Linked DNA regions of Homo sapiens. The protein of the gene in region 2 purifies or fractionates together with the protein of the main gene of each other region. This does not show direct contact. Each region holds a gene or a part of one and is shown on either strand. Other genes may lie near its edges.

The links.
Region 1: the proteins of DHX36 (region 2) and SEPTIN7 fractionate together in Homo sapiens (co-fractionation; one large-scale study listed by BioGRID). This does not show direct contact.
Region 3: the proteins of DHX36 (region 2) and HEBP1 fractionate together in Homo sapiens (co-fractionation; one large-scale study listed by BioGRID). This does not show direct contact.

The regions. Positions count from the first base shown.
Region 1 is NC_000007.14:35,884,429-35,888,085, forward strand, and holds part of SEPTIN7 (septin-7), read left to right. Parts: intron 1-1,399; coding exon 1,400-1,451; intron 1,452-3,657.
Region 2 is NC_000003.12:154,317,831-154,321,487, forward strand, and holds part of DHX36 (ATP-dependent DNA/RNA helicase DHX36), read right to left. Parts: intron 1-3,657.
Region 3 is NC_000012.12:12,983,256-12,986,912, reverse strand, and holds part of HEBP1 (heme-binding protein 1), read left to right. Parts: intron 1-2,270; exon of another isoform or gene 2,271-3,569; intron 3,570-3,657.

The DNA.
Region 1 (3,657 bases), on a different chromosome or scaffold from region 2:
ATAAGAGATACTCAACTTGCCCCACCCTGGCTGGCATCCTGCCTCATCATTAAGTCTATTTCTGTTTTCATATTTGAAAACATAACTAAAATTGAGGGGTTCTTTACCTGGGGCCCAAAGTTTGCTCCCAGGGAATCTAATGAACCACCTGGAATCAAACATTTGGAGAGAAGGCCAGTCACTTTTATCGGAACGTCAGATGGTCATGGACCCTCAAGAATGATTGAAGAAATTTGTAAGCCCAGTTAAAACATCCACAGTCTTCTTTCCTCAGTGCAAAAGTTGCCCTTTTTGATATCTCATATTTAGAGTAAAAAAATTTCGTTAATAAGAGATCCTCTTTACTAGTTTTGTAAGGAGTTTTTTGTTTTCTTTTTTAACCTGCTATCTTAAATTATTAAGGGTTAAGTAAGGAGTTTTAAATACCAATAAAATCTTAGTTATAACACCAAGCCTCAGAAGTACTTCCTCTTGGCAATAGGTTTATTGTATTGGTTTAATCTGATACTTAATCTTCTGTATTATAGTAAGCTGAAACCAAAATTGAGATTTGATTGTTTTATCTGTTTGTTGCTATTATTTTTGAACTTCGTTTTTTTTTTTAAGAGACAAGGTCTTGCTATGTTGCCCAACTGGCCTCAGAATCCTGAGCTCAAAGTGATCCTCCCACATCATGCTCCTCCCACATCACGTCACTATAAGCACACACCACTGCCCCTGGTTTATTTTGAACAATTCTTTAATTTTTAGGATATTGTTTCAGGTAACTGTCCTTATTGGCAATTTTCCCATCAGTGACCTGTGTACCTTGTTCCCAGCTCTCTCTATCATGCCCAGGCAACTTTTACTTGCTGAGCTGGGGCTTTAGAACTTACCCCTTAAAAATACGCACCGGAGAAATTGATTTGCATCTCTCTTTTGTAGTTTACCCCTCTACTCCCAAGTAATATTCCTATTTGTGATACATTCTTTAAAAATAAAAGTAAAGAACCTGAAAGTTCTTGGCTCCCTTTTTCATTTTGGTTACCTTAAGATTTTTTCTAAAGTGATTCTCCCTTCACTCACACCACTGAATTTTTTAAATGTATTATAGAATAAATATATTTTTTACCAATAATAAGATTTCCCCTTTCAGAATTTCAAAGTTGTTTCTGGAGAGTTCATTTGTTAGGTTTACATATCTATTTCTGAGGATTAAACTACAATAAGGCAATAATAGAGTACACTTCTCTGTCATGCCCTCACATTGAGTGTACTATGTTAGTGTTAAATCTCAAAAAAATTGATCTGTTTTGCATTTCCTCTTCTTGTTTTTACACCCCAAGTTCCTGTGAAATATTTTTTGAAAAGACTAGGTTTAGTGGAAATATAACATATGCGGTCTGCTTTTTTCTTACAGTTGAAAATGGTGAACATTGTGATTTTACAATCCTAAGAAATATGTTGATAAGGTAAGTGCAAGCAATGATGGAAATAGCATAAGATTTTCTTTCCCTAAGTAAGAGTTGGACAGATTTACTTTTTGCCTTCTATAAATGTAGCTAATTTAAATTTATATCTTCAGTCTAGCCATGAAGTAAACACTACATATAGATGATTCTTTCTCCAAGGTTTTGAAGTCATGAGCAAAAGTTGCAAAGTAATTTGTCTAGGGATACATAGGAAAATTAGTCTCTTTATCATTATACTTTGTGTCGAGATTTAATACTGAAATAACTATGGAAAGTGAAGTAGAAGAGGCTCTTTTTTCTTAATGTGAAAACCTTGTGAAAACTATATAAGAGAAGGCTAGTTTTTGAGTCCAAAGCTAGAATTTGAATGTTAAAAGGTGCACAGCCTGGTAGCTGGTGAGTAGGGCACATTTTATGTACTGGAACATAGTGAATAAAACCAGTATTCCTACCAGGTGAGAAATCCCTAAATTGTGTCTTACACACCTGCTGAAAGAGAAGGAAAGCCTATGGGAGCAGGACATCGAGGCCATCCTGATTAGAGGACCAGGACTGTAAAGAGGATCTCTTACTAATGAATTAGAAAAGCAGCAGCAGAGAGGAAATCATGAAGAAAAAGTGTAATAGGACTAGAGATGTTAGTAGACAAGGAACAGAAAGGGCATCAAAATGATCCTCAGTATTTTCATGTTGAGACACATTCATTCCCCTCCCTACCTGACTCCGCATTTCCCACTTTTCTCTCTTGCTTCTCTACACCTTTACCACATACTCTCTTTAACCTTCAGTTTTAGATGTCTGTCTTTAGTTGATATCTATTAATTTTCATACCTCTACCCACTTTCCCAAAACATAAGAATCTCTTTTGCTGTGTAAAGAAAGGTAGTTACATAAATATGGATAATAGTTGGAAATCATGGAATAACAAGAGGTCATTCTCAAGGTGAGAAGTGAGGGGGAAAATTTAAGACAGTCAAACTGCTACCTCAAGAAATACAATAGAGGTGAGAGTGAATTTTGAAATTAAATAAATGGCATGTAATTGATCTTTATTTTCAAAGGAGCAGGTGTTCTTGGTAGGAACTACATGATAGGTTTAATTCAGCAGTTGAGGTTGCCAGGCCTCACTTAGTGGAGAAGAGCAAAAGCACGAGAAGGTCATCTTCTGGGTTTTGAGAATACAACACTTCAGGCTCTATTATGAACCATTCCCTTCCTCTTCCATTCTTAAGGTGTGACTTCAAAAGAATACATATTAATAATATAATCTGCTATGACAGTATATAAGTAGAGAATGTTTAATAAATACTAATTTACCATTGCATTCCTCTTGTTTTTAAATCTTCTATGGTACTTGCCTAGTGCTTGACACAATGGCATTCTATAACTTTTTCTTGTGTATTTTAAAAGTATACAATCAATAATTTCCTACATACCTAAAACACTGTAGAGGGGAAAGCTAGTTACTGAGCCAGAGGCTACTTTGTTGAGATGGAGTCTCACTTTCTTGCCCAGGCTGGAGTGCAGTGGCACGATCTTGGCTCGCTGCAGCCTCCACCCAGGTTCAAGTAATTCTCCTGCCTCAGCTTCCTGAGTAGCTGGGATTATAGGCATGCACCACTACACCTGACTAATTTTTGTATTTTTAGTAGAGACAGGGTTTCACCGTGTTGGCCAGGCTGGTCTCAAACTCCTGACCTCAAGTAAACCACCTGCCTCAGCCTCCCACAGTGCTGGGATTACGGGCTTGAGCCACCACACCCACCCAGCCCAGAGGCTACTTTGAATATTCGAAGGTTCACAGCCTGGCGGCTAGTGAGGGACCTCCCTAGTATAAGCATTACAGAGCAAATTGACCATGCCTGCAGGAAGATTTAATACAGCAGAGCAGCAAGACTTTTATGCCTAAAAATTCTAAAGTTATTATTAAAAAGATGTGTATTTAATTTAGCTCATGTCTTTAAGACAAAGCCATCTAGTGGATATTTAATAAATACTTGAAGGAAGGAAATAAAATACCAATACCAATATTACAGATGTCTGTAAATCCCAAATAATTGAAATCTTGCAGGTCAAAGGAATAGTGATTGCTTCTAAGAAAGAGGCAAGTTCAAAGAAGTTCTCTTGCTAATTAAGAGAACTAACTTACTCCAGGCAAACCAAGGAAGACGATGGAAAGGAGGAAAACTATACAAATATTTTCAGG
Region 2 (3,657 bases):
TTGTTTATTTTTTATAGCAATCCACAGTAAAACTAATGACCCAGTACACACATATACAAGTAATTTCACAAAATACTTCCCTTACTCTGTACAGTGCAACTCTTATCTTCTCTTCACTGTATTCTATCCCAATTAAACAAACACCAAAATAGCTGGTCACAACAAAGTTTAACATAAAGTTTGAAAACCCAGGGTGGGTAGAGGAGTATGTGTCCCAGGAGAACAAGACATAAGCATCTTTAAGACAAGAGACAGGGTTTTGTAAGACATTCTAATTCTAATCAGTATTACATGCTTTGTGAAAGCTCAAATAAGTTTACATGGGTAGGAGGATAACCTAATGTAATAAATATGAGAAATCAGTGATAAAACAACAAACCTGAAGAAGCAAAGCAAATGAACTATATGTTACCTCCTTTTTTGAAGTGAAAATGAGTGGCTAATTTCAGTTGTCAGGACATAAAATGTCTCTACTAAAAGTCCTCTTAAGGTTTTTTGATGTATCTGTTTAGTTAGAATATAACCTATATCTGCTATTCCTACAGTTCTCACTTTTCCATGTTAACTCATTACTCTATATTTTGTTTAGTAAACAATTTCCTAGATTGACATTTCACAATACATTGCCCACTTCCTGCCCGTAACAGCACAAAAGATTATTCTAATTTTATGAGATTTCACGCCCCCGGAAAAGGTGAATTACTGGATAACATAACAGTCTACTGAAAATAAACAGATCTACACAATCTTCCAGTCCAAACTATCACAACAAAATTCATTTTCATTAAAAAGTCAACATCAGTTGGTAGACTTTAAGATACCTTACACAATGCATATGTACCAAGTAAGCATCTGCTAATCAATAAGGAATTAGTTGAATTGTAGTACACCCAGTGGTTAACAGTGGGTAGATCTTTCTGCAAGTATATAAACAGGAAAGATGACCAAAGTATTAAATAAGTCAGTTGTGTAGTAGGATCTTGTTTTTATTACTATTAATTTGAAAAGAGGTTATTCACTCTCCATATCCTATACTTCTTGCAGTGTCTCTGCCAGATATAATTCTGGTACATGGTATGTGCCCCAGAGAAGTCTGTCAATGGAAGGAATGAACAGCTGAATCTTTTACAATGAGCATGTATGATTAGCCCTTGAAAATGTAATTTACACTCTAAATAAAAACATTTGTATTTTTAATGATGTTCTCCCCACAATGAGTTTCTGGATGCTGCAGGTAGCAGAGAACATACCTTAATTCCAAACTTGGATCTTGCCTTTTTGTAGGATGCCTCTCTCCCCCTCAACAACCTTCTTCTAGTTCTACCACGCTTCACTTTATTTCACTCCTTGCCTGGAGAATCTCAAAACACATTTTTTTCATGACTATTTTCTTTTATCATAGAATTTTGATTATTTCCCACTTTCTTGGACATTCTCAAATACCCTGCTTCTAGTTTTCAGTTCCTGGCAAGAAACCCTAAATGATGTCCATCAAATTTATGTTATCAGCTTTCTAATTATCTGCAACTACTTCACACTGTCTCCCCATTCTCTGTAACAGGCCAATACCACCCTTTTGTTTGCCCTCAGCATTCACACGCAGTTTTTCACAAAACAAAAGCCCTAAGAAAAGGTCCTCAGTTGGTTATCACCAAACCTAAACCCGCCTGTATCAGAATTTATCCTTTTCTCTTTTCTTTCTTGTTATAAAAGAAGTGCATTTTAAAGGCTAACCCCTCAACCTGAGCTCTGCAGTCCAGTTCCTTTCATGTCCTCAGGGCCACCTCCTTCACTGAAATTTACCTTGCTTTCCTAAATTTCTAACCTCTCCAGTAGACATTAGGCAGTCAACCGATATTCTGGTTTGCTTCTTTTAGTAATGTGGTAGAGAATCAAACCTTGCTTGTTATAAACCATTAAGATTTGGGGGTTGGTTATTACTGCAGCATAATTTGGCCCACTTTGATTTGCCCACTTTGATTTCCTCTTCACTGGGTGCTTCCCTCAGGGCATGAACATGGTCAAATCTCTTCACCTTAAAAACAAAAAACCCTCTCGTGAATTCCCCTACCCCTATCAGCTACGGCACTATTTTTCTTCCTCATCTTCACAGCAAAACTACTGGAAAATGTTCCACTTCTGAATCTCTGTTTCACTTGCCACCCTACCGCAATCTGGCTTTTACTTCCACAATGCCACAGAAAGGACTCCCATTAAGATCATCAACGACCTTGTTGATAAATCCAATAGACATTCTCTGCTCTTACATCATTTGTGCATGCTTGCCACTATCAATTACTTCTTGTTGATACGCTCTTCTCTCCTTTAAACACTACTCTTAGATTTCAAAACAACACACACCTTATTTTTCTCTTCTCTAGCTGATCTTTCCTAGATTATTTTGTAACCTTCTTTTCCTCAGCCTGTCCTTAAATTTTCATTTTCCGTATTTGACAGCCTGAGTGATCTACAGACCAGCAACACTGGCATCACCTGGGAGCCTGTAACAAAAGTCGAATCTCTGATCCCACCAGTGTCCTACATTTTAACAAGATGTCAGGTGATTCCTATGCACATTCAAGTCTGAGAAGCAATGGTCTATAGAATTCAGGCTGGGCCCACTCTATTTCTGACTGTTCACTCCCACACTCCAACTACTACCCATGAGCCCATTAACTGTCAAATACTTATCTCCAGTCTAGATTTTTCTAGGCATCAGATCTACACAGCCCTCTCCCTCCTGCAAATCCTCATTTGTATGCCCTATAACAATATCAAACTCATAGTGTCCATAGCTGAGCCTTCTTCCAACAAGCCTGATCCTTACAGATAGGCATAAAAGAGTCATCATTAACACTGTACTCGTCCCTTCAGATAAAATACATCACAAAATCATTTTGAGTCTACCTCCTAAATCACTTTAATCTGTCCACTCCCCTCCATCTCCACTGCCAACGTGCTAATTCAAGCTGTCATTTCTCACCTTAGTTACTGCAAGGGCTACTTCACTGGTCCCCCTGAACCAGGATTACCTCTCTTCAATCCATTCCTTATACTGCTACCAGAGTGAATTTAAACATTTAAAATCCAGTCATTTCATTCTTTGTTTAAAATGTTTTAATGACTTGCTACAGTCCTTAGAAAGACTCAATGTATCTCAAGGCCCCGCGTATTTTTCTAGCCCAGAGATTTTCAAATTGCTGTTTCTGAAATTATATTAAAGGATCATGACCAGCATTAATAAAAAGAGAACAGAGAAGTTCAAAAGCAAAAAAACCTCAAAGCAATGTGCAGATAATTAAATATTATTTTACAAAACTTTTCATCTAGTTATACATATGTGTGTACTGGGTTGTAAATTCAAATACATTCCTTTTTGGGCAAAGTGGCCAACAAGTTTGAAATTGACTGCCCTAACCTCATCTCAATACACTCCACATCCATGTTCTTATCTTTTACAGTTTCTCGAACTGAAAATGTGCTTCCTTGATCTCTATGTTATGGCACATGCTACTGCCTTTGCCTGGAATCTTTTCCAAACCCCAAACTTCAAACACACACACGTACATTCACTTTGTTATCTTTCAAGTTTCAACTTAAGGGTTACTGTCCCTGAAAAATCTTCTAAAATACCTTGCCCTGAGTTAGGTGATAGCC
Region 3 (3,657 bases), on a different chromosome or scaffold from region 2:
TTGCTTAAGCTTACAGTGAATGTCTACATTAGCCATAGCAGGGTTCTAGGAGACTCAGCAAATATCTTAAGTCAAGCCATGGTCTGGATTCGTGGACACATGGGAAGCATAAAGGGCTGAGGAATACCTGATTTCTACCCCACACTCCCTTTGAATGCCAGAGAGCAGGGAGCATTTGCTAGAGCTGGGCTTCCATCCTCCTTGTTGTTCCTGGATGGTAGTCCTTTGAGCAGAGCACACATCTATTCTCTTGTCATCCTGGTCCTGTTTCCAGGACTTCATGTGGGGTCATTTTCCCTTGACTGTAGAGAATAGCAGGTGCAAATGGTTACTAGTTTCTATCCCTTGTGCTCCAAACTGCCCTCAGAAACCAAGTCTTCTAGATCATTGATGACTCCTCACATTTGTTAAAACACTCCCATGTGACAGGCACCAAACCAGGCTCAGGGAAAGACCAGGATCTTCACCAGAAGTAATCATAGGTGGTTTGGCTCCGCTCAGGAGCAACCTCATGAAAAATTCACATACATATAATATTGCACTGGACTGAGTATTGGTCCACTTCAGGGACCTCCAAACTTGGCTGCCCTGCTGCAACCCTGAACCTGATGGTGGGACCATTTTCCCCGGAGCTGTGTCAATGTTCTGAGAATGTGAGTTTCACCGCTGTGTGTAGTCCTAGGCCAGGTGACTGCAGGGCCCTCCAGAGGACAGTGAATGTAATGCAGCTGGGAGCTAGCACCGGAGCCTCAGCTCCTGTGCTTGTCCTGCAGTCCTCATTCAGACTTCCCAGCTTCCCTTCAGAGGGTGTGGAGAAAGCAAATTAACTTAACAATATCTTTTCCTAGGGTGGAGATGCACCTTGGGTGCAGCATTTAAGGAAGCACTCACTCTCACAGCTGTCCAAGTGCAGGATGGGGACTGAGAGTGAGCGCCTCCTTAAATCTTGTGCCCTGGGTTAGATGTCTGCTTGTCTTTTCCATTCTATTTCCTGTGTTTGGGAAGCAGCAGGTATAATAAAATGAACTTGTATTTTATTTGAATTCCAGCTCTACTGCTTACTAGCAGAATGATGCTTGGGAAGTTAGCCACTTTAAGACTTAGCTTTTGCATTTGTTAAGTGCTGATAATATAACCTCCTATATATGATGTGTGTGTGTGTGCATGTAATGTAACCTTATAGGATTATTGTTAAATATCTTTCAGTATTTACTAAGATACTATTTATGTATTACCTAATGTTTATGACCTGAAGCAGGTTTTGGCAATTACCCCTTCTGTCTGTTCATTCTTATTTCATAAGGAATGAGATAGACATGATTGAATCAGTTCACATTAAGACTTCAAGCAGATGGGGCTAGTTTCTGATCATTTGTTTTACCAGACCCTGAGTAATGAGTGGATATAATTTTTTTTTCTTTTGTCTTTAACTTTTTAGTATGGGAATTTTCAAACTTATAGAAAGGTAGAAGCATATAAGATCATGAAATCATATGTGCCCATCCCCTACCTACAGCAACGATCAGCTCAAGGCCAATTCTGTGTCATGTGTATCTTCACAGCATTCACCCAGCCCTACCCTGGATTATTTTTAGGCAAATTCCAGACATTATATTATTTCATTCATAAATATTTCAGGTAATTACTGAAGATTTTTTTAAAATATAATCACAATACCTTTTTTCTGAAATTTCAATAGTACTTCATTAATTTATAATATAAAATATTCAATGCTCAGATTTCCCCCATTACTTTTTTTTTTTTTCCAACGGAGTCTCTCTCTGTTGCCCAGGCTGGAGTGCAGTGGTGCGATCTTGGCTCACTGCAACCTCTGCTGCCTGGGTTCAAGCAATTCTCCTGCCTCAGCCTCCCAAGTAGCTGGGAGTACAGGAACCTGCCACTGTGCCTAATATTTGTAGTTTTTTAGTAGAGACAGGGTTTCACCATCTTGGCCAGGCTGGTCTTGAACTCCTGACCTTGTGATCCACCTGCCTCGGCCTCCCAAAGTGCTGGGATTACAGGCGTGAGCCACCACGCCTGGCCATCATTTGTTTTAATATTTTGTTAGAATCTGGATCCAAGTCAGATTTTGTAGTACTTTCTTTTTGTTGTTGTTGTTAAGAGACAAGGCCTTGCTCTGTTGCCCAGGCTGCAGTGCAGTGGTGTGATCATAGCTCACTGCAGCCTCAAACTCCTGGGCTCAGGTAATCCTCCCACCTCAGCCTCTCAAGTAGCTGGTACTACAGTTGCACACAACCACACCTGGCTGATGGTACATTTTTAAGCTTTTATTAATCTGTGAATTTCTTTACCAACACAACTTTACATTCTTCCTTTCCATCTGTGGATCATTTGTCTTCTTATTATCTGTACTGGATTTTGCTGATTATATTTCCGTGACATTTTACCACATCCCTCTGAGCCCCGTATTGCCTGTAAATTAGTAGTTGAAACTAAAGACTAGATCAGATTCAAGTTTTTGAAGTTTTGGTGAGAATATTTCCTACGTGGTGGTGTTTACTTCCTTCAGGGGCCCACAGTGTCTGATTGTCCCTGATTGAGTGATGTTGGTGACCATAGTTCATCATTGCCTAGATGTCTTGTTCCATTAGAGGCCATAAAACGATAATGTTCTCTGTTTCTCCTTCTTCTTTTATTACCTGCAATATTTCAGTAAAGAGAAACTTCCCCTCGTTTACTATTTGGCTTCCTTTATTTCATATAGAAAAAGCCAGATACATGCTTACTTGATACCTTCTCTTTATTTACCAGTTTTCAGAATGATAATTTCATTCTGTAACATCCTCAAGGTAAAGTGGTCTGCATCTTCGTTTTTTGAGTGTAATTATAAACATATGAATTTAAACATATTTGATACGTTTCAGTTTGTTACAGATATTATTCTTATTGATGCTCTAATTGCCCCACTGTTGGCCAGCGGGAGCCTCTTCAAGTTGGTTTGTTGGTCCTTTTGACACAGCTCCAGTAGTCGTTGATGGCTCCCTGGCTTGCTGGTATAATGAGATGTTTTGAGCACATCTTAGCATTTCTTGCCCTAGAGCTAGAATTAGCCATTTCTCTAAGGAACGCTGGTTTCTTATGGTGGGAAGGGGTATACGGGTACTATCAAAGGCAGGTCGGTGACCATTTCCTTTTAATTCTCTGAAATCTAAACAGCTGAAAGTGCCAAATGTGGTGTCTAGCCTGGCTCCATGGAATTTTTAACACGGAGTTCTCACACAGCATATGATCATTCCTCAACTCGCCACTTGATGTCACTGCATAGTCAAATGAGCATTCAAAATTACCCTGCAGTGGTTTGTGTTATTTCTGATTCTGTTGAAAGCAATGTTAATGAGATGGTAGAAGGCAAATGTACTACTTCAAATGCAAAAGTACTCTATCAAATAATGCAGTGAGTGCATTCAATGACAAAATTAATTCTAAAATGAAAGCCTGGCGTCCTTCATTCAGTCTTCCTTCTTTATGACCTTGTGAAGAGATGTTTACAAAGGGATTATACATTTATTAGCATCGTTAATTACCGGTGCTTTTAGATGAATAGAATGCTGTGAAAAAAAATAGCACTATCAGAATATGTTTAGTATTCACAAGAGGCAATAGAATTATCCTCACACTTAGACCAGCAGCAACATT